4 linked regions of the Homo sapiens genome follow. Changing the gene in region 2 together with the main gene of any one other region gives a genetic interaction. Each region holds a gene or a part of one and is shown on either strand. Other genes may lie near its edges.

The links. A genetic interaction does not mean that the proteins touch.
Region 1: changes in MUS81 (region 2) and TMEM209 impair growth when combined (synthetic growth defect), as found in Homo sapiens cells (one large-scale study listed by BioGRID).
Region 3: changes in MUS81 (region 2) and PCNX2 impair growth when combined (synthetic growth defect), as found in Homo sapiens cells (one large-scale study listed by BioGRID).
Region 4: changes in MUS81 (region 2) and BRD10 impair growth when combined (synthetic growth defect), as found in Homo sapiens cells (one large-scale study listed by BioGRID).

The regions. Positions count from the first base shown.
Region 1 is NC_000007.14:130,180,147-130,185,658, reverse strand, and holds part of TMEM209 (transmembrane protein 209), read left to right. Parts: intron 1-291; coding exon 292-467; intron 468-1,403; coding exon 1,404-1,475; intron 1,476-3,939; coding exon 3,940-4,036; intron 4,037-5,512. UniProt on the Homo sapiens protein: Nuclear envelope protein which in association with NUP205, may be involved in nuclear transport of various nuclear proteins in addition to MYC.
Region 2 is NC_000011.10:65,862,818-65,866,939, forward strand, and holds the end of MUS81 (structure-specific endonuclease subunit MUS81), read left to right. Parts: intron 1-247; coding exon 248-388; intron 389-592; coding exon 593-685; intron 686-760; coding exon of another isoform or gene 761-782; coding exon 783-904; intron 905-983; coding exon of another isoform or gene 984-986; coding exon 987-1,084; intron 1,085-1,679; coding exon 1,680-1,796; intron 1,797-1,902; coding exon 1,903-1,998; intron 1,999-2,199; coding exon 2,200-2,328; exon of another isoform or gene 2,329-2,329; intron 2,330-2,402; coding exon 2,403-2,506; intron 2,507-2,993; coding exon 2,994-3,077; intron 3,078-3,168; coding exon 3,169-3,235; 3' UTR 3,236-3,622; downstream 3,623-4,122. Other genes in the region: EFEMP2 (EGF-containing fibulin-like extracellular matrix protein 2 precursor), read right to left, coding at 4,101-4,122. UniProt on the Homo sapiens protein: Catalytic subunit of two functionally distinct, structure-specific, heterodimeric DNA endonucleases MUS81-EME1 and MUS81-EME2 that are involved in the maintenance of genome stability.
Region 3 is NC_000001.11:233,259,966-233,265,477, reverse strand, and holds part of PCNX2 (pecanex-like protein 2), read left to right. Parts: intron 1-2,314; coding exon 2,315-2,520; intron 2,521-3,312; coding exon 3,313-3,433; intron 3,434-4,156; coding exon 4,157-4,193; intron 4,194-5,512. UniProt on the Homo sapiens protein: May play a role in tumorigenesis of colorectal carcinomas with high microsatellite instability (MSI-H).
Region 4 is NC_000009.12:5,917,262-5,922,234, reverse strand, and holds the end of BRD10 (uncharacterized bromodomain-containing protein 10), read left to right. Parts: coding exon 1-2,551; 3' UTR 2,552-3,213; downstream 3,214-4,973.

The DNA.
Region 1 (5,512 bases), on a different chromosome or scaffold from region 2:
AAAAGTCTTAGAGAATGAAACGAGCTTAACTTTTCAACAGAACTAGACAGATGCCTTTGACTGCTTATTGTTTTTATGACTGTTAAATTGATATGGCTCAGAAAATACTATTTAAAATTTTTAATCACAAGCAGACTGTGATCTCTAAAGAGAAAATTATGTTGGGGAGAAGAGAATCTCCTTGAGGGTTGGTCTTCTGATTCCTGGATTGCCATTGCCTAGATATAAGTGTTAACTGTAGATGTCAGAATTGCTACAACACACTGATACTGTTTATCTTAACAATTGTAGGGAGCCCAGATTCTACCTCTCCTTCCAGCAGTCCTACTTTCTGGAACTATAGTCGTTCTATGGGGGATTATGCACAAACTTTAAAGAAGTTTCAGTATCAGCTTGCCTGTAGGTCTCAGGCCCCATGTGCTAACAAAGATGAAGCCGATCTCAGCTCTAAACAAGCCGCAGAAGAGGTAAGTGGAAAATAAAAGTGACTTAATATTTATGATTTATGCATTGTTAGAAAGTCTTCTACTTCTGGAACATTTTTTCTGTAATCTTCCATTCTGTTGGACAGAAATGTAAATCTGGCACACATTAGGCAGTGGGAAAGCTCCTGTCTTACTTTGTGTGCCTAAAACTAAAAACTAAATTATATCATACATTTTACTCTGTGACACACAGTTCACCTTAGCGCCCTGCCTGAAACATATTTTTACATTGATTATAAAAAGGCTCTCAGGTATATAATTGTACTTAACACATACAGAAGTCTTGCTTTTAAAATATATTTGGATTAGAATATTTGTCAGTAATTTCGTCACTTTAATACCAAATATGGAATTTTTATTTTGTTCTTAAAAGCAAGAAAAATGGGCTGGGCACAGTGGCTCACGCCTGTAATCCCAGCACTTTGGGAGGCAGAGGCGGGTGGATCACGAGGTCAGGAGATTGAGACCATCTGGCCAACATGGTGAAACCCTGTCTCTACTAAAGTTACAAAAATTAGCCCAGCATGGTGGCGTGTGCCTGTGGTCCCAGCTACTCAGGAGGCTGAGGCGGGAGGATTGCTTGAACCTGGGAGGCAGAGGTTGCAGTGAGCTAAGATTGCGTCACTGTGTTCCAGCCTGGACAACAGAGAGAGACTCCATCTCAAAAAAAAAAAAAAAAGCAAGAAAAATGTTCTTTACACATACCAATGTAAGGAACTTTTAAAGATAAATCTGTGTGTGAACAGCATTTATAAGTGAGTAATAAGAAAATTACTGAATATTAATTAGATGAATATTGATGTTTGGGAAATTTTTTTTCAAAGTTCATTAAATATTTTTTAGGATGGGAGAAAGAATGATGATTTCTATCAAGATTTTTCCTCACTGATTGTTCATTTTAAACATGAATTTTTATAGGTCTGGGCAAGAGTGGCTATGAATAGACAACTTCTTGATCATATGGATTCATGGACAGCTAAATTTAGAAATGTAAGTTCTGACATTACTCTTTGGACAATATTAGTGCCTCTTAATATGCAAAGCATGTTATTAGAATATCATTTAGAGTTCATTATAAATTAGAATATTAGTTATAAAGGTACAGTATGAATGGTACATATATAAGGATAAACATGACTGTTACTATATGGTATTTATTTTCATGAGATTTTTTTCTTCCTCCATATTTAGTGAATTGTTATGTTTTGAGAAGATAAAGGAATAATATGTTTAGTTATTGAGATCCTCCCTTTTCAGTTCTCAGTTTTATTTTCCAAAGAGCTTTTCTATTGGAGCCTTTTATTTACCTAGAATTGTGAGGGGAAACAAAAATGAGGTCCTTGCCCTCAGAAAACTTAAAGAGTTAGAGAGATAAGACAACATATGCTTGAAGCTATTTCAAAGTAGATTATGATTTCTGTTTTTCTAGAGAAGAACCCTCTAATCTTGGGCCAACTTTTCCATATACAGAGTGAGTGAGTTCCCTATTTCCAACTCCACGTCTTCCTCCCACCTTCTCTAGTACCTGTGTGTTCTGGGTTCTGTTAGGCATATGGACTTCCCCTTCCACTATACGGAGCTCCACTTAGCTCTGAAGGGGCTACTACTTCTGTTGTTTCATCCTTCAACATTCATCCATCCACTCTGCATCTTCTAGAACTATTTTGAAATCACTTGTGCTCATTTTTTATCCTTTTACTCTTATTTAAATAGGGCATCAAAATAGAGGGGCAAAAAATGGTAGCCTACTTTATTGAAACAGAAACCTGGATGGCATTTTATGGATAATTCCTGAACCCAATCCTAGACTTACTCAATTAGAATTTATAAGGGTGGGGCCTAGACCTCTCTCTGGGACACGTTAGGTAATTTTGTTACAGCCAAAGAGTACAGCTGTACTCTTTTGTACCATTTGTCACAGCTGGCAAATTAAGATGCATGTAGTAAATGTTGGAAGGATGAATGAGTCAAATCATCTCCTGAAACTGGAGTTTGTTGTAGTTTCTGTTATAGGCTAGTCTAAAAATGCTAACATGTTTAAAATATGAAGTCTTAGTCAGACAGAGTATTAGCTACTTAGAAGAAATACAAATACATTTCCTCATCTGAAGTCCCTAGGTGACCATGTGCTATAAAATTTAGAGTTTTTGGATTTTTTTAAGCAATACATGTATACCTGTACCGTATAATTTATAACACCAGAGTCTAGTTAACACTCAGTAATCAACCACATTAATACTTCTGCAGAAAAACATATGAATAGTCACACTCAGTGGGATAAAGCCTATAAATAGCTTCATGTGAATTCAGTTCAAGTCTTGCCAGTATATCAAAATTTGCTTCCTTACATGGATTACAAGAAATCTTTTAAGTTCCCAGAAGGTTTTTGTTTCAGTTGTTTATAATATTGTATTTCATTGGAAACATTTTTTCATCCTTTTATTTTATGGATAAACAAAAGCATGGAAACAGAAGTGGTAATTGAAGTTGCTACAAACACATACACAAAATAATAACACACAAACCAGATGGGATGTATCCTTAGTCTTTTCACATCCCAGCATTAGTTTTATATTAGCCATGGAAAAGGCATTTGAAAGTCCCAGTCCTAAAGTAATATTGTAATATTCAAAAGCCAGTTTCAAATGTAATAAGTCTCTGTTTTTCCACATGGTTAGGGAATTGGGTGAGCCTGCTGAGAGTTAGGCAGTTATGTTAGTTTGAAAAACTATCTTACTGATTGCAAACCAATATAAACACTACATTAATAAATGTGTGAATAGTTACCCTACAAATGTAAACTGAAGATTATCCTTTTAGCTAAACATAATAATCAGAAAATTTTAAGAAAAATTTAACATATAGCTAAAAGTTTTATATTTTTTTTTCAGGAAAAAAAATAAAAACATGTTATTTAAGAATGTAATTTAGTTGCCAGGCGCAGTGGCTCACGCCTGTAATCTCAGCACTTTGGGAGGCTGAGGCAGGCGGATCACCTGAGGTCAGGAGTTCAAGACCAGCCTGGCCAACATGGTGAAACCCCGTCTCTACTAAAAATACAAAAAATTAACTGGGCGTGGTGGCAGGTGCCTGTAATCCCAGCTACTCAGGAGGCTGAGGCAGGAGAATCCTTTGAACTTGGGAAGTGGAGGTTGCAGTGAGCTGAGATTGCGCCATTGCACTCCAGCCTGGGCAACAAGAGCGAAACTCCATCTCGAAAAAAAAAAAGGAATGTAAGTTAGTTAATTTACACTCCAGTGGCATATTTATTTAACCATCTCTTGATTTCGGGTAGCTATTACTTTCATTCTCTTTCACTATACTTTATGATTCTTTTAATATTCAACTATAAGATAGTAAAAAAAATTCTTAGAGTTGCTTGTAAAAAAGAAAGTAATTATTTGACAGCTACTTGGGAATTATGTATCCAAAATCTGTACCTTATTTCTTCTAGTGGATCAATGAGACAATATTAGTGCCACTTGTTCAAGAGATTGAGTCTGTCAGCACACAGATGAGACGAATGGGTTGTCCAGAGCTACAGATAGGAGGTATGTGAAAACAGAGCCCAGTGTTGGATTTCTATTAGTAAATCTACCAAGTGGAAAACTTCTTGTAATGGACGGCTTAACTTATTTTGTTACCTTGGGGTGAAAAACCCCAAATGTCTATAATCTAGTTTGATTTTTTTTTAACGTGACAGCTTTATCAAGATGTAATTTAGCTACCATATAATTTACCCATTTAAAATGTACAGTCCAAAGTCTTGGGTTATGCAACCATCACCATAGTCAGTTTTAAAGCATTTCATCACCTGAAAAAGAAACTCTCCACCTTTTACCAGTCACCCCCTGTTCTATACATTTCTCCCAGTCCTTTGCAAGTGCCAGTCTATTTTCTGTCTCTATAGATAGGCCTGTTGTGGATATTTCATATGAATGGAATCACAGAATATGAACATGACTTTGTGACTGGCTTCTTTCACTGAGCATAATGCTTTCAAAGTTTGTCCATGTTGTAGAATTTATCATTACATCATTTTCTTTATTGCTGCATAATATTCAAAATAGATCTACTACACTTTGCTTATTCATTCATCAGTTGATTGACATTTAGGTGGTTTTCACTTTTTGGCTCTTATGAATAATGCTGCTGTGAACAGTCACGTACAAGTGTTTATATTGGACCTATGTTTTCATTTCTCCTGGGTATATACCTAGGGGTGGAATTGTTGAGCTGTATGGTAACTCTGACTAACCTTTTGAGGCACTGCCAGACTCTTCTAAAGCACCTAGCTGCACCATTTTACATTCCCACCAGCGTGTATGGGGTTCTGCTTTCTCCACATCCTTGCAACACTTGTCATATGTTTTATAGTCATCCTGCAGTAGGCGTGAAATGATGTCTCATTTTGGTTTTGATTTGCATTTCCATGATGACTACTGATGTTGAACATCTCATGTGTTTATCAGTCATTTGTATATCTTCTTAGAAATGTCTTTTTTGGCCGGGCGCGGTGGCTCACGCCTATAATCCCAGCACTTTGGGAGGCGGAGGTGGGCGGATCACCTGAGGTCAGGAGTTCAATACCAGCCTGGCCAACATGGTGAAAACCCCGTCTGTACTAAAAATACAAAATTAACCGAGCATGGTGGCAGGCGCCTATAATCCCAGCTACTCGGGAGGCTGAGGCAGGAGAATCGCTTGAACCCTGGAGGCGGAGGTTGCAGTGAGCCGAGATCGTCTGGGGGGCAAGAGCGAGACTTCGAGACTTTGAGACTTTGTCTCAAAAAAAAAAGAAATGTCTTTTTGATTCCTTTACCCATTTTTAAATTTGGTTATTTGTCTTTTTGTTGAGTGGTAGATGTTTTCTTTATATATTCTAGATATAAGCCCAAGACTCTTAGCAGATATTAATCACAAAGTTGTATAAAGCATAAAGACTATGTAATAATAGTAATTTTCCATCACCTATTTTCAACTCTCTTATCTGCTAAAGGTAAAATTTTAGGGTGCCATATAAATTG
Region 2 (4,122 bases):
ACAGCATTAGTGAAGACAGGAGGAAGGAAATTGTCTGAGACACACTTCTTGCAGACCTGAGAATGGCGCTGAGCAGGCCCAAGGAACTGCTCTAAGAGCCAAGAAGACCAGGAGGAGCAGGAGCCACTGGGGTCATTTGTGCAGGGCGCCAAGGGGGTGGTGAGGCCAGCCCAGCTGGGGGCAGGCAGGAAAGCCTGCCAGGAATGAGTGAAGAAGGTAGAGCTGTGTTGTCCCCTCTGCCTCCCAGGTACTCATTGACCCCAGAGGGCCTGGAGCTGGCCCAGAAGTTGGCCGAGTCAGAAGGCCTGAGCTTGCTGAATGTGGGCATCGGGCCCAAGGAGCCCCCTGGGGAGGAGACAGCAGTGCCAGGAGCAGCTTCAGCAGAGCTGTGAGGAGGAGGGCAGAGGAGTGGGGAAAACAGGGAGGAGGGGATGGGAAATGAGGCCAAAGCCCCGCCCCAACCCATCACCTGCAGCTGAACTGTGGCTGCCTCCCTACTGTGGGTGGGTGGTGGGTGTCGGGTGGCATGGGTGTGGGGCAACTGCCCTGGCACAAGGGGTTCTGGCCTCACATACCAACACCCCCCACTTAGTGCCAGTGAAGCAGGGGTCCAGCAGCAGCCACTGGAGCTGAGGCCTGGAGAGTACAGGGTGCTGTTGTGTGTGGACATTGGCGAGACCCGGGGGTGAGTGAGGTGGGGAGAAACGAGGGAGATGATCAGAGGAGGCTGGGGGGTAGGCACTGCCCTGCTCTGATCTAGGCTTCCCTCCTTGCCACTCCAGGGGCGGGCACAGGCCGGAGCTGCTCCGAGAGCTACAGCGGCTGCACGTGACCCACACGGTGCGCAAGCTGCACGTTGGAGATTTTGTGTGGGTGGCCCAGGAGACCAATCCTAGAGACCCAGGTGAAGGGCCGTGGACAGGCTGGCACCAGGGGCAGGGCCTGGTGGGTAGGGGATCGCAAGCTAACGGCTGGCTTGTCAGCAGCAAACCCTGGGGAGTTGGTACTGGATCACATTGTGGAGCGCAAGCGACTGGATGACCTTTGCAGCAGCATCATCGACGGCCGCTTCCGGGAGCAGAAGGTAATTTTGCTGGCTTTGCCAGGCTTCCCTGCCTGCTCCGAAGCCCCGTTTTCAGCCCAGAGCAATCCAGGGGCACTTCTGGCAGCCTCCTTGAGGCAGAGCCCTTTGGAATCCAGCCACACCCACCCTGTGGCTGCTCCAGGATCAGACCCCCACAGGCCCATCCAGGCGCACAGTAGGAAGCCAGGTACCTGCATTCTTGGGCTGAGGTCAGGAGCATTTTAAAGACCTCTTGGGTACCCAGCCCCTGCAGTCTTGGATAAACAAGGCATAAACCTCCAGGAGTGGAAATACAGAGGCTGTACCTTGGTACTTGCTGCTGGGTGGACCCCTAGTCACAGAGGCCATGTGCCGGCCCAGGGGAGGCTTGAAGGATGGGCAGTGTTGAGAGATGGAGAAAAGGCTTTCTAGACAAGAGTGTCAGCATGAGCAAAGCTGCGGAGGCCCCTGTGAGGCAGGTGGAGAGGCTAGGGAGGATGCAGAGGCTAACTGGTGGGAACAGGGTCCCGGCACCATTTTGAGTGTGACATCATGGATGCCCAGGCATGTGGTCATCCAGCCTGACCCTCCCTGTCCACTCTGTACACTTCCCTAGTTCCGGCTGAAGCGCTGTGGTCTGGAGCGCCGGGTATACCTGGTGGAAGAGCATGGTTCCGTCCACAACCTCAGCCTTCCTGAGAGCACACTGCTGCAGGCTGTCACCAACACTCAGGTGAGCTGGGAGGGCAGGGCCAGGCAGGCAGGCAGGGGCCCCTGTGGTCCATGGTTCATGGTCTAGGCCAGGAGCCACCTTCCCTCTCTTGGGTCCTCTTCCCCAGGTCATTGATGGCTTTTTTGTGAAGCGCACAGCAGACATTAAGGAGTCAGCCGCCTACCTGGCCCTCTTGACGCGGGGCCTGCAGAGACTCTACCAGGTGAGCAGAGGCCCCTTTCCCAGTGTCGGGACAGAGCCCACAAGGAATTCACCTTGCCTGGGCCCTGTGCATCCCCAAAAGAAGCAAGGTGGGTGAGATCCCCATTTCTCAGGCTGGCCCCCCAAGGCTGAGGACTGGGCAGGGGCTGGCTGGAGTTGTTCCTTCGAGCTCCAGCCTGGCCTCAGTCCCTTCTTCCCTCAGGGCCACACCCTACGCAGCCGCCCCTGGGGAACCCCTGGGAACCCTGAATCAGGGGCCATGACCTCTCCAAACCCTCTCTGCTCACTCCTCACCTTCAGTGACTTCAACGCAGGAGCCATCAAGAATAAGGTACTGTCTCTGCCTAGCTTCTCAGACATGGCCTGGCCCAGACCCCCACTGATCCAGCCCTTTCCCGAACCCAGGCCCAGTCGGTGCGAGAAGTGTTTGCCCGGCAGCTGATGCAGGTGCGCGGAGTGAGTGGGGAGAAGGCAGCAGCCCTGGTGGATCGATACAGCACCCCTGCCAGGTAGGCCCTAAAGGGCCCTTAGGTGTCCTCAGCCCCTGCCCTCCATGCATGGAATTCACCTTAATCCATGCTTCGTGGAGGGGGCCTGGCCTTGTGTGGGCTCTGCAGACCAGAGATAGACAGATCCCAGGGTGCTCGTGGAGGTCAAGTGGGGAGGAAGCCAGCAGGCCCACATAGTGTCCCAGGTAGTGGAGGCCACAGGAGGGAGGGAGACGTCCCACCTGGTGGAGAAGAGGCTTCCTGGAGAAGGGGTTGGGCCATTAAGGGGAGTGAGGGTGAAGGTTTGGAGCCTTTGCTGGTTTTGCCCCAGAGTTCCCACAGGGAGGGAGGACAGCCCGGCTGGCATGGGGCCTTGAGTGCCAAGCTCAGGAAGTGGGGCAGTGTCCCAACTCTTCCATCCCATGCTGACCCCTCTGCCTGGCCCCTCATGGTGCTGGCCCAGAGTGGGCCACTGTCAGCCTCAGAAACTCAAACCCCTGCCCCCCAGCCTCCTGGCCGCCTATGATGCCTGTGCCACCCCCAAGGAACAAGAGACACTGCTGAGCACCATTAAGTGTGGGCGTCTACAGAGGTGAGGGCAAGAGACGGAACCTGGAGGGAGTGGCAGGGACTGGGGCTGCCCTAGGCCCAGGGCGTGACCCTCGCTGCCTCTCTTCCTGCAGGAATCTGGGGCCTGCTCTGAGCAGGACCTTATCCCAGCTCTACTGCAGCTACGGCCCCTTGACCTGAGCTTATGCCGTGAAACAGCCCCCAGCCCCCGTCTGTCCCCCAACCCAGGCTAGCCAGCCTTTTAACAACATCTTTTGGGGTACAATTAGAATCTAAGTGTTTGCAGCCATATGTGTCATGTAGAAGATGCCTAGCCCTGGGGACCTTGTGAAATACGCAGGAACCAGGGATACCATCTGGTCCAGTGGTTTTTAAACAAAGCTGCTTAGCACCTGGAATTCCCTGGTCAGGGAGATGGAGTCAGTGGGGCATTGCAGCTTGGAATCTATTTTATGTCACCAGTTGGTCCTCATCAAATAAAATTTCCTTAGGAGTGCAGAGGGCTCATTGGGAAAATAAAAATAATAAAAATAAATAAAACTTCCTAAAAGAAAAGATTGAAAACCACTAACAGTCCAGTTGCCTCGTTTTATAGAAAAACAGGCCCAGGGAACTACTAGGGCTTATCCAAATGTACAGTTTGAGGCAGAGTTAGGAATGGAACCCAGGGCCTCCTGGCGCTGTCCAGAGTGGAGTTTCTTAGGACCCCTGCAAGCCAGCCAAGTCCAAATCTCTGGGCCGGGGCCTGGAGTCCGCCCTCCTCGTTACCTCCTCTCCTCTCGGGGTGACTGAAGCTCGTGGTGCAGAGCTCCCAGCTCCTGTCAATGGGGGCCCCTGGGCCTGAACATATAGAGACCCCCATTTAGGTGAACTTGGCCTGCCCCCCCAAGTGCCACCCTGCCCCAGCCTGAGGCTTCCTGCAGTGTGACCCGCCCACCTCAGCCACCAGGACTTTCTTTCTCCCTTTATTGCCTTTCTCATTCTGCCCCTCACAACAGGCTCCTCAGCTAGGGTAGCTGCAGGGAGGGTGGCTCCCTCCTGCTCCTCAGAAGGTGTAGGCCCCTACA
Region 3 (5,512 bases), on a different chromosome or scaffold from region 2:
GGAGGCACCTAGCTCATAATTGTCTAAGCCAGCACTTGTGCTCATTGTCCATTGGGCAAAAGTAGTCATATGGCCTCAGCCTCACTGCAAGAGAAGCTAGGAAATGAAGAGGAGAGGATGGAGTATTTAGTGATCACTAACTCTCTTTGCTACCCTTGCTGACTAGAGTACTATGAAACCCTAGTTACATGAAAATTCAACAATCTCTTGAATATAATTCCTTTTTTTTTTTTAGAGAGGGTCTCACTTGGTAGCACAGGCAGGAGGAGTACAGTGGCATGATTATAGCTCACTGTAAACTTGAACTCCTAGGCTCAAGAGGTCCTCCCACCTCAGCCTCCCCAGTAGCAAGGACTATAGGTGCATGCCACCACACCTGGCTAATTTTTAAATTTTGTAGAGATCGGAGGGGGGGTCTCACTATGTTGCCCAGGCTGCTCTTGAACTCTTGGGCTCAAGCAATCCTTCTGCCTTGGCCTCCCAAAGTGCTGAGATTACAGGCATGAGCCACTATGCCTGGCGGAATATCATTTTTATATAACAATAATCTGTTTTCACGGACATCTGCAGGTTTTCTTTTCCTTCTTACCCTCTTCAAATTAACTCTCTAGATTTAGCTTAAATTTTTGAAACCCAAAACTATTAGTAGTATTTAATTTAGTGGTATTTAAATTAGTAGTATTTTAACGTATTAGTAGTATTTAGGATGTAAATATAAGGTTTATATTTACAAATGCACCTTTTGTAAATATAAACCTTATCTGCTGCCAGGTAGTGGACCTGGCTTTATTATCTAGCTTGTATCATCTTATATAGTTATTCCGTCACTTATTTATTGCTTGCTTTATATTTATTTGTGGACTTTTCCCCCCATGACATAATAAGAGCGAGTTAAGTGATGGTGAAAATCTCTGACTTTATCTTTTACTTGTTGATCATCTTCCTCTTTCTTTTTTGTGCTCTGTTTGGCTATTCCATTTTAGGGACAGTCCAACTTGGAAGATAGACTCTTGCATGGGACCACGGCAAGCTGTACAGGGTCTGCTTAGGCATGGATATGGACTGGGCCCTGCTGTCTGCAAGCCTAGCTATGTTTAGGTTGAGGCACCAGCTACACGGATCACTGGATTTCTGATATTCTTTAGGGAAGTCCATTGATAAAATGGTCTTGCGAATCATTGAGGCTGTCCTGGATATCACCTTGGGACACTTGGGGATCTCTTTCCATCCCAAAGAATAGGAATGTAGTTTAGGAAGGACCAGAGAACGTGTGATAGTCCATGGTCCTGGAGAGAATTAGGAAGGTATATGGGAGATGCTACAGAGTGGGACAACTCCACGGGTCCCAGTGATTCTTTTCGTTTTGTTTCTTGAAGGGATTGCATAGAATTGAGCTGAACCTCACTATGGTCGCCATGCTCAGATCATTTGTCTCTGCTGGAAATATCCCTCTTCCTTTTGGAAGTAGTACCCTTTTGTGGTTCCCTGTGTGCAATACAACCCTAGGGAAATCCATGGCCTGCAGGCGTTATCGCAGTGGGAGGTTAGGGAGGGGAATGGGGGAGTGGTTACCCTAACCTTTCTCCCTTCTTTTTCCTTCTGTTCTCCACAAGGCTTTTTGTGTTTTGTTGTTGAAAACAAAATACATCTCTGGCCTTTAAGATGAGCTGCATAGGAAGATGCATTGGATTAGGCCATAGATAAGAGCTTATCAAACATGGAGGCCGGGTACAGTGGCTCACACCTTTAATCTCAGCACTTTGAGAGGTCGAAGTGGGCGGATCACCTGAGGTCAGGAGTTCGAGACCAGCCTGGCCAACATAATGAAATCCTGTCTCTATTAAAAATACAAAAATTAGCCGGGCATGGTGGTGAATGCCTGTAATCCCAGCTCCTCGGGAGGCTGAGGCAGGATAATTGTCTGAGCCCGGGAGGCGGAGGTTGCAGTGAGCCGAGATCTTGCCACTGCACTCAAGCCTGGGTGATACAGTGAGACACTGTCTCAAAAAAAAAAAAAAAAAAAAATGGAGAGGTTTCCTCGAATATATCTTTTGTTCTGTGGGGTTCCTGCCTGCAAATCAAATGTTGGTTATCAGTGCAACTACTACAGAACCTGAGAAACAAAAAAGACTTCAAAAAATAAAAAGCAGCTCTTTCTCCTCAAGTATTTTAACCAGGAAAACTTAAAAAATTAGTCTAATTTGAAATCTTGCCTAATTTATATTCAATAGATAGTCTAAAAATGCTTCCAGATTTAAAACAGAAAGAAAATCTTAAAAGCAAATGATTTTTCTCTGTCTTTTCCTTTCTTCAGGCTTTTCCTCCAAATGCGATCATTGTATTTTTCTACTGCAGTGCAGTGACTATATTCTTCACAATAATCAAACTGGTCAGTTATCGCCTACACCTCATGTTTGACAAAGGAGAAGTAATTCAGCAAAAGCCCTCCAGAAAGGAAGAAAAGCCAAATAAAGACAAGGAGGCCAAAGGTGAACACATAACTAATCACAGAAATCCAAGGTAATATTTTCAATTAATGTGACACTTCAAAATGTAAATGTTTTGCTCTTGATTAAAATAAGTTTTTTATCAGTGTTTATGAAATTACTAGTATAGGCAGACAGAAATATATGCATTTTTCTTATATTTCAGCATATACTTAAGCATAAAATTGATATTCATAATCAAGATGGTTTAACTGGCTTCCCAATAAATGTCTTTTTGGGAAGTCAATATGACCTTCTCATAAGATCTAGAATTCATTTGCCTTAGGCTTAGCACTGCAAAAAATTTCCCTTCACTGCTTTTAATGTTGTTATTTAAATGCTTAGAGCATGCCAGAGTATTTTAAAGAACAGCATTTGTGTTTGTTGATATAAAAGTAATACATTACATAGAACTGAAATATTAAGAGTAATTCTTGAGTTAGCATTCTTTTCACCATTCTTGTATTATTTCTTATAGCTCCTTAAGATAGCATGTCCTCTAATTTAAAAATAATGTTTATTATAAGATTTATCTGCTGCAGATGGTGGCTTATGCCTGTAAACCTTGCATTTTGGGAGGTTGAGGTGGGAGGATCACTTGAGTCCAGGAGCTTGAGGCTGCAGTGAGCCATGATCGTGCCACTGCATTCCAGTCTACCCAGACAGAGCGAAGCCCTGTCTCTTAACAACAACAAAAAAAGATTTATATGTAAGGAATATAACAAAATGGACTCTAGGAAAAAAAGTTTTTAGACTAGTACTAAAAGAGTCATGCTTCTGTTTGATAATATCGCTCACTGCTCTTGTGTTTCTCATGTTGGGTTAGCAATAATAGGCAGATTCACAATGGCAAAAAGGAAGAGGCCAGTCGAAACCTCTCCACGCCTCCCCTCCGCTGCAGCTCCAGAGGGCAAAGCATAACCTCTCATCACTCTTCTGGGCCATTGGTTAGTGGTCTTCTTTCCTGTTTCACCCTCTTCATGTGATTTCGATGTTGATCTCACCTAGAATGGGAGTGTTCAGCAGCAGTGATTGTAGCTTGCATGCTGTAATCACTGGCCCGTGTACAGTGGAATATCACATCCCAGGGTCTGGAAATGGCCTGAAGGGTGCCCTTGGGACCATAAAATAAATGCCCAGTCGTGTGTTCAAAGCACACTCTCTGGCCTTCCCTGCCGTCCACCTGCGCTGCTGGGTCAACCACACTGGGCAGAGAACCAATATGTAGGCCTTTGCTTCTTTCTGTTGTCATTCATTTAAGTCATCATATCTGCAGTGCCTTCCACCTGAAATGGATATCACCTCTGCTTTCCATTTTAAATCACACTTGTCTTTTTGGGAAGTCAATAAATCACCTTTTTTCTAGATTAACTTTGTTGAGCTCCATTCACTATAGTGTAAGTAGTGGCTTCTTCCTTCTTTGCTTACTTTCTTAGTAGCAAATCTCCCTTTGTCACAGTACAGTTGTCTCGGTTGAATGTCCACATTTACATATGTTTGTATCCATTCTGGGCCCCATTTTATAGAAGCTTAAGGAGAGTGAACACTGTATTGTCTCTCCCCTACATGCCATTTAGAAAATCAGTGACTGCTGTCAGTTATTGCCGACTGTCTGGAAATGGACGGTCAGCTGAGTCATCTATTGATTTTTGTTTCTTTCATTTGTGTAGGAGTTGTCAGCACAGGAAACTGTAGAAGATCTCAAAGGTAAACTGTTAATCATTTATATTTTATCACAGCACTATCCTCAGTGAAGTGAGAAATATTTTTATAAAACAGAATGCCAGTGGATTAATTGAAAATAAGAACTATACCTAAGACTGCATAGTTATATTTTGACTTTGTTTCTTTAACTCTTAATTTTAATTTTTTCTCATCGGTATTTGTATATCAAGTCTTAATTCAAATTGTGATATTTTGTTGATCATAATTCATTGTCATTTCTCCAGTCTATGCCTCATTTCATATGGCTTATAAAGAGCAGACATATAAGTTTTTTATTGATGATAAATTATCATCCATATAAAAATTTGTATTATAGCATATACATCAAAAAATGACAGGATAAATTGTACAGCATTCTGCATATCTGCCTTTCTTTCAAGTTACAGATTTTGTTTTGGGGGATCTTTCTTTTAACTTAAACAATTTTTGTTTTACATTTTTACTAACTTTTTTTTTTTTGTCTTTTGACTACCTGCAGAAGGCTTAGAAAAGATCTTTTGGAGGCCTGAATTAATTCCTTCCTTTCTCTGCAATTCTATTTTCTTTTCCACTACTACAAAGACAAATTTTGTGCACTATTTCAATTTTGAAAATAATGTAAAGTTTAATTCGCTCTAGAAAATAGCTGAAATTAGCACCATAGCCCTGAACCCCTAAAATGAAGTTTCTTTTTTCATCATTCAGTTGTATCCCATTATAACAATATGTAAAGGATTATCCATATTTTTTCTATATTATTGCTACTGAAATAAATTCACATGAGTTAGACTTCTAATATTTTAGTTGCACGTACAGCTTCATAACAACGTTACTTTATGTGTTTTATATACACATATACAAGCACATACCTTTTTCTTCATATGAAACATATTCTTCCAGATTAGGTGTGCTATAATAATCTTACATACTTTGAATATCTGGTCTGGCCTTTTAATTTCACCATTCCAATTAAAACAATAATTTTCTATTTTTTACTTGTACTAAGAATTGCAGTAGAAGTTTTACATACATTATTTCATTCTGAGTCATAGTATGTAAAATGTACAGGTAGCATTTAAACCCATACCTGGCTACTAAATCCAGTGTTTCTTAGCAACACTGCAGTAAAGCAAAGAATTCTGTTTTTTCCTTAGTCAAATCTTATAAAAGATACCATCCTAGTTGGTGGTGTTCTACAGTATTTTAGGGGATTTGGTTCCAGGACCCCCGTGGATAACAAAATCTGTGGATGTTGCTCACGTCTCTTATATAAAACAGCATAGTATTTGCTTGTAACCTACACACATCCTCCTGTATACTTT
Region 4 (4,973 bases), on a different chromosome or scaffold from region 2:
TTTTGCACAACAGACTGCTGATTCTTCTGAAGCAAAGCAAGAGCTGAAAACTGTGTGCATAAGAGATTCACAGTCAATTCTTGTTAGGACACGAGGTGGGAACACTGGAGTTGTAAAAGTACAGACCAACCCAGATCAAAATTCACCCAATACTGTATCTTCAAGTTCAGTTTTCACTTTTGCTCCTCAGCTGCAGGCATTTCTGGTGCCAAAATCAACAACTTCTTCCTCTGCTTTTTCACCTGTAGCTGGAACAACTACTACATCTAGTCTTTCACCTTTTAGCCAAACACCAACTTCTGTTTCCATTCCAGCTAGCTTTGCCCCATCCATGGGGAAAAATCTCAAACTTACATTAGGCCACACCACTGGCAGTGGTGATTTGGGCCACGTGATAGATAAAACTTCACACATGCCCTCTTCTCCCTTGAAGTCCTCTATTTGTTCTAGTACTCTACTACCATCAACAACAAGTAGTTCGGTAAGTGTAATTAGCATATCAGCAGCAAATTTTGGACAAAACAATGCAAATATTATTCATACTCCAACTAAACAGCAACAAGTAGATTATATCACAAAAAGTTACCCTGTTACAAGGTCAGAAGCAACAGCAGCAACAAATGGAGATGTAATCAGTGGGACTCCAGTTCAGAAACTTATGCTGGTATCAGCTCCATCTATTCTTTCTTCTGGCAATGGAACTGCAATTAATATGACACCTGCGCTGACATCTACAGGTGTTTCTGCCCAGAAATTAGTTTTTATTAATGCCCCAGTTCCTAGTGGTACATCAACCCCAACTCTTGTTGCAGAATCATTAAAACAAACTCTTCCTCCTCCATTGCATAAAGCATATGTTAAGACTCCAGAGCAACCCCAAATAGTACTGATTCCGTCTACAGTGGGCACACCAATAAAAATAAATTCATCACCAGCTGTGTCTCAGATAAAGGATGTGAAAATTGGACTAAACATAGGTCAAGCAATTGTAAATACTTCAGGCACTGTGCCAGCTATACCATCAATTAACATATTACAAAATGTAACCCCAAAAGGAGAAGACAAAAGTAGCAAGGGCTATATTTTGCCATTGTCAACAAGTGGTAATTCAGTTCCAGTAAGCTCAAATTTTGTGAGTCAGAATATTACCCCTGTTAATGAATCAGTGGTTTCTTCAGCAAGAGCAGTAAATGTGCTTTCAGTTACCGGAGCAAATTTATCTTTGGGTTCCTTTCCAGTGACCTCAGCCTCTGCTTCAGCTGGGGCACAACCTCCTGTTTTAGTCAGTGGAAATGATACCTCTTCAAGAATTATGCCTATTTTGTCAAATAGACTTTGCTCATCAAGTCTCGGAAACACTGTGGCTATATCAACTGTGAAAACAGGACACCTTGCATCATCTGTTCTGATTTCAACTACACAACCAGTAGTGTCTCCTAAATGTTTAACATCAGCTTTGCAAATTCCTGTTACGGTTGCCTTACCTACACCTGCGACTACATCCCCTAAAATAATAAACACAGTTCCACATTCGGCAGCAGTACCAGGAGCCACACGTTCTGTATCTATTTCTAAAAGACAATCTCGGACTTCACTCCAGTTCCATTCACCAGGGATTTCAACTACAGTGCCAACAAATGTAAACACAAATAAACCTCAAACTGAATTGTCGTCCCTTTCAACAAGTCCAGGTAAAATAACTAATACGTCCAATTTTGCTTCTCTGCCAAATCAGCAAGCTTTAGTAAAAACCCCCAGTTACAGTTCTGCTCCAGGTGGCACTACCATTCACACGGCTTCGGCACCATCCAATGTAACTAGTCTAGTCGGGAGTCAGTTCAGTGAACCTTGTATTCAGCAAAAAATAGTCATCAATACCAGTACACCTTTGGCACCTGGTACTCAGATTATGATTAACGGAACCCGGTTTATTGTTCCACCACAAGGTCTTGGAGCTGGCAGCCATGTTCTCCTTATATCTACTAATCCAAAATATGGAGCCCCCTTAGTTCTTAACAGTGGCCAAGGCATTCAATCTACACCAATAGATAACTCTGCCCAGAAGATCACACTAGCATCAAATAATTCCTTAAGTGGCCAACCTCTACAACATCCTCTAAGAAGCCCTACAAAATTTATAAACTCTTTTGGGAATGCAAGTTCTATACCCACAGTACATACATCACCACAACTCATAAACACAACTGCTAAGGTTCCTGTTCCACCTCCTGTACCAACAGTATCACTGACTTCAGTAATTAAGTCTCCAGCTACTCTTTTGGCTAAGACATCTTTGGTTTCTGCCATTTGCCCCAGTAATCCTCCACTGCCAAGTAGCACTTCAGTGTTTCATTTGGACCCACCTGTCAAAAAATTGTTGGTTAGCCCAGAAGGAGCCATTTTGAATACCATAAATACTCCAGCATCTAAGGTTTCTTCACTCTCTCCATCTCTCTCTCAGATTGTTGTATCTGCCAGTCGAAGTCCTGCGTCTGTCTTCCCTGCTTTTCAGTCGTCGGGCTTAGAGAAGCCTGACAGAGCTGCATCTTGAATTTAGACTAAAAGAGCCAGTTTTTAAATAATGGGGCATTGTTTTGACTCCCATAAAAATTTTCAATGTTTATTATACTGTTGAAAGCATACTATACATTGTGTGTGTGTGTGTGTGTGTGTGTGTGTGTGTGTGTGTGTTTTAATGTATCTTTTCATTAGCTTGCAACAAGGCTTTGTTTTCTTGGGGAGGGAAAGATCTGTTCCATTTCACTTACTGTTCTGAGGAGGGTTTCAAGGTTCTGTGTTTAAAGTCAGGATTTACCTGTCTGTAGAACATAAAGTGAACAAAGTTTGAATAGTTTAGAGTAAGCTAGCCTTTTGCACATTTACATTGACATGTTTCTTCTTGAATTTGGACTGTTGCAGCATATCTATGATATGGTATTCAGTGTCATTAGTGAAATCTTATTTTTGTTTCTGTAAAAAAAAAAATACATATATATATTTATGCATTGTGAAAAATGCAGTCCATGATGTAAAATTGTACATATTCCAGAATCCCTAACAACCTGTACTAAATATATGTACAAAGAACTATGCTGTCTTATTTATGTTTTGTTTACATAATGTATAGTTTTTTAAGTATTTTAGTAATTTTGGACCAGTGAACTGTTAGCAACAATGCAGAAGAATCTGCATGTAATAAACTGAGTTGCTGTATTTCTTTGTTTGAATACCATTTTTAACGTGTGTTCTTGTTCCATTGAAAGAATACAGGATGTAATTGAAGACAGTCCTTTACAAGAAAGAATTAAGGGTGGGAAATTTGAATTAGAGCTAGCACTTGTACATGGCTTTCCAGCTTACAAATACTACTTTCACTTAAATCTTGTGTTTCAGAAAATGCCTTTTTTTTTTTTTTTTTTGACTCACCTGTTGCCCAGGCTCGAGTGTAGTGGTGCAGTCTCAGCTCACTGCAACCTCCACCTCCTGAGCTCAAGCCATCCTCCCACCTCAGCCCCCCAAGTATTAGGTTGGTGTGTAAGTAATTGTGGTTTTTTTGCCACTAATGCCACTAATGGCAAAAAAAAAAAAAAAAGCCACTAACGGCAAAAAACCACAATTACTTTCTCACTAACCTAATAGCTGGGACTACGGGCATGGGCCACCATGCCTAATTTTTTAATTTTTTGTAGAGATGGTTTCACCATGTTGCTAGGCTGGTCTTGAACTCCTGGTCTCAAGAGATCCACCTACCTTGGCCTCCCAAAGTGCTGGTATTACAGGCATGAGCCACCGCACCCAAGAATATGCCTCGTTTTAAATAAAAGGTAGCTTTTATATTTATTGGATCTTTATATCCATTATCTTGAGCTACTGAACTGTATACTCATCCTTCCATTTATAATGTTGTTAAACTTCATCACATGAAGTTATTGTTGGGGGTTGGAAATGATATGGAAGCATAGGCCTAAAGATTTCCTTTGAGACTACATCAAAGTGTATTTGTTATCAAAGTGGAGAGGGTAGTGAAAATATTCCTAGAAAGTCACTAAAGGCTCTCAGAAACCGCTATTTATGCTCTAAGTACTTTTCCTAGTCATGTTTATGCTCTACTCAAGTCACTCTCCCCGTTTTTCTGTCAGTTAAGAAAGCCCTGGGGAAGTGGGTGATATTTCAAGTGCATTGCATTGCGCATTGATGGTGCTCAACAAATGGCTGTATTTACCTACTCAGCTTTTAAAACAAAATGACCCAAAACTGTTTGCCTTTTGTCTCAGAAGAATTCTCTTAAGCCATTTTAAGAAACTAATTTACTGAATTACCTATGGCCCAACTTTAATCCCAGTGAAGGACCTAAACTAACCACTAAATCTCTCTCTTTTTTTTGAGACGGGGTCTTCTCTGTTGTCCAGGCTGGAGTGCCATGGTGCTATCTCAGCTCACTGCAACCTCTGCCTCCTGGATTCAAGCAATTCTCCCACCTCAGCCTCCTGAGTAGCTGGGATTACAGGTGTGCACCACCATAGCCCAGATAATTTTTGTATTTTTAGTAGAGATGGGGTTTCACCATATTGGTCAGGCTGGTCTCGAACTCCTGACCTCAGGTGATCCGCCCACCTCAGGTGATCTGCCCACCTTGGCCTCCCAAAGTGCTGGGATTATAGGTGTGAGCCACTGCACCCAGCCACTAAATCTCTTCTAACTCCTAAATCCAAAATTCTAATATGACCTTCATAGCTCTGTGTGATCTGGTGAACCTTCGTACTGAAGTCCCCACTTAAAGTTTTAAAAGCTCTTCAGTCTGTTCCTGCCTACCTCTCCAGCTTCATTTCAACCTGTTCTCCCTCTTGTTCACTGTACTCTAATTTTCTTTTAGTTTCTAGAAAATTCAAGACACTTGAAGGTCTTCCCAGATGTCTTCTTTGACCTAATGTTCCATTACAGGTTCTTATTACGTGTTATGTAACTCCCTGTCC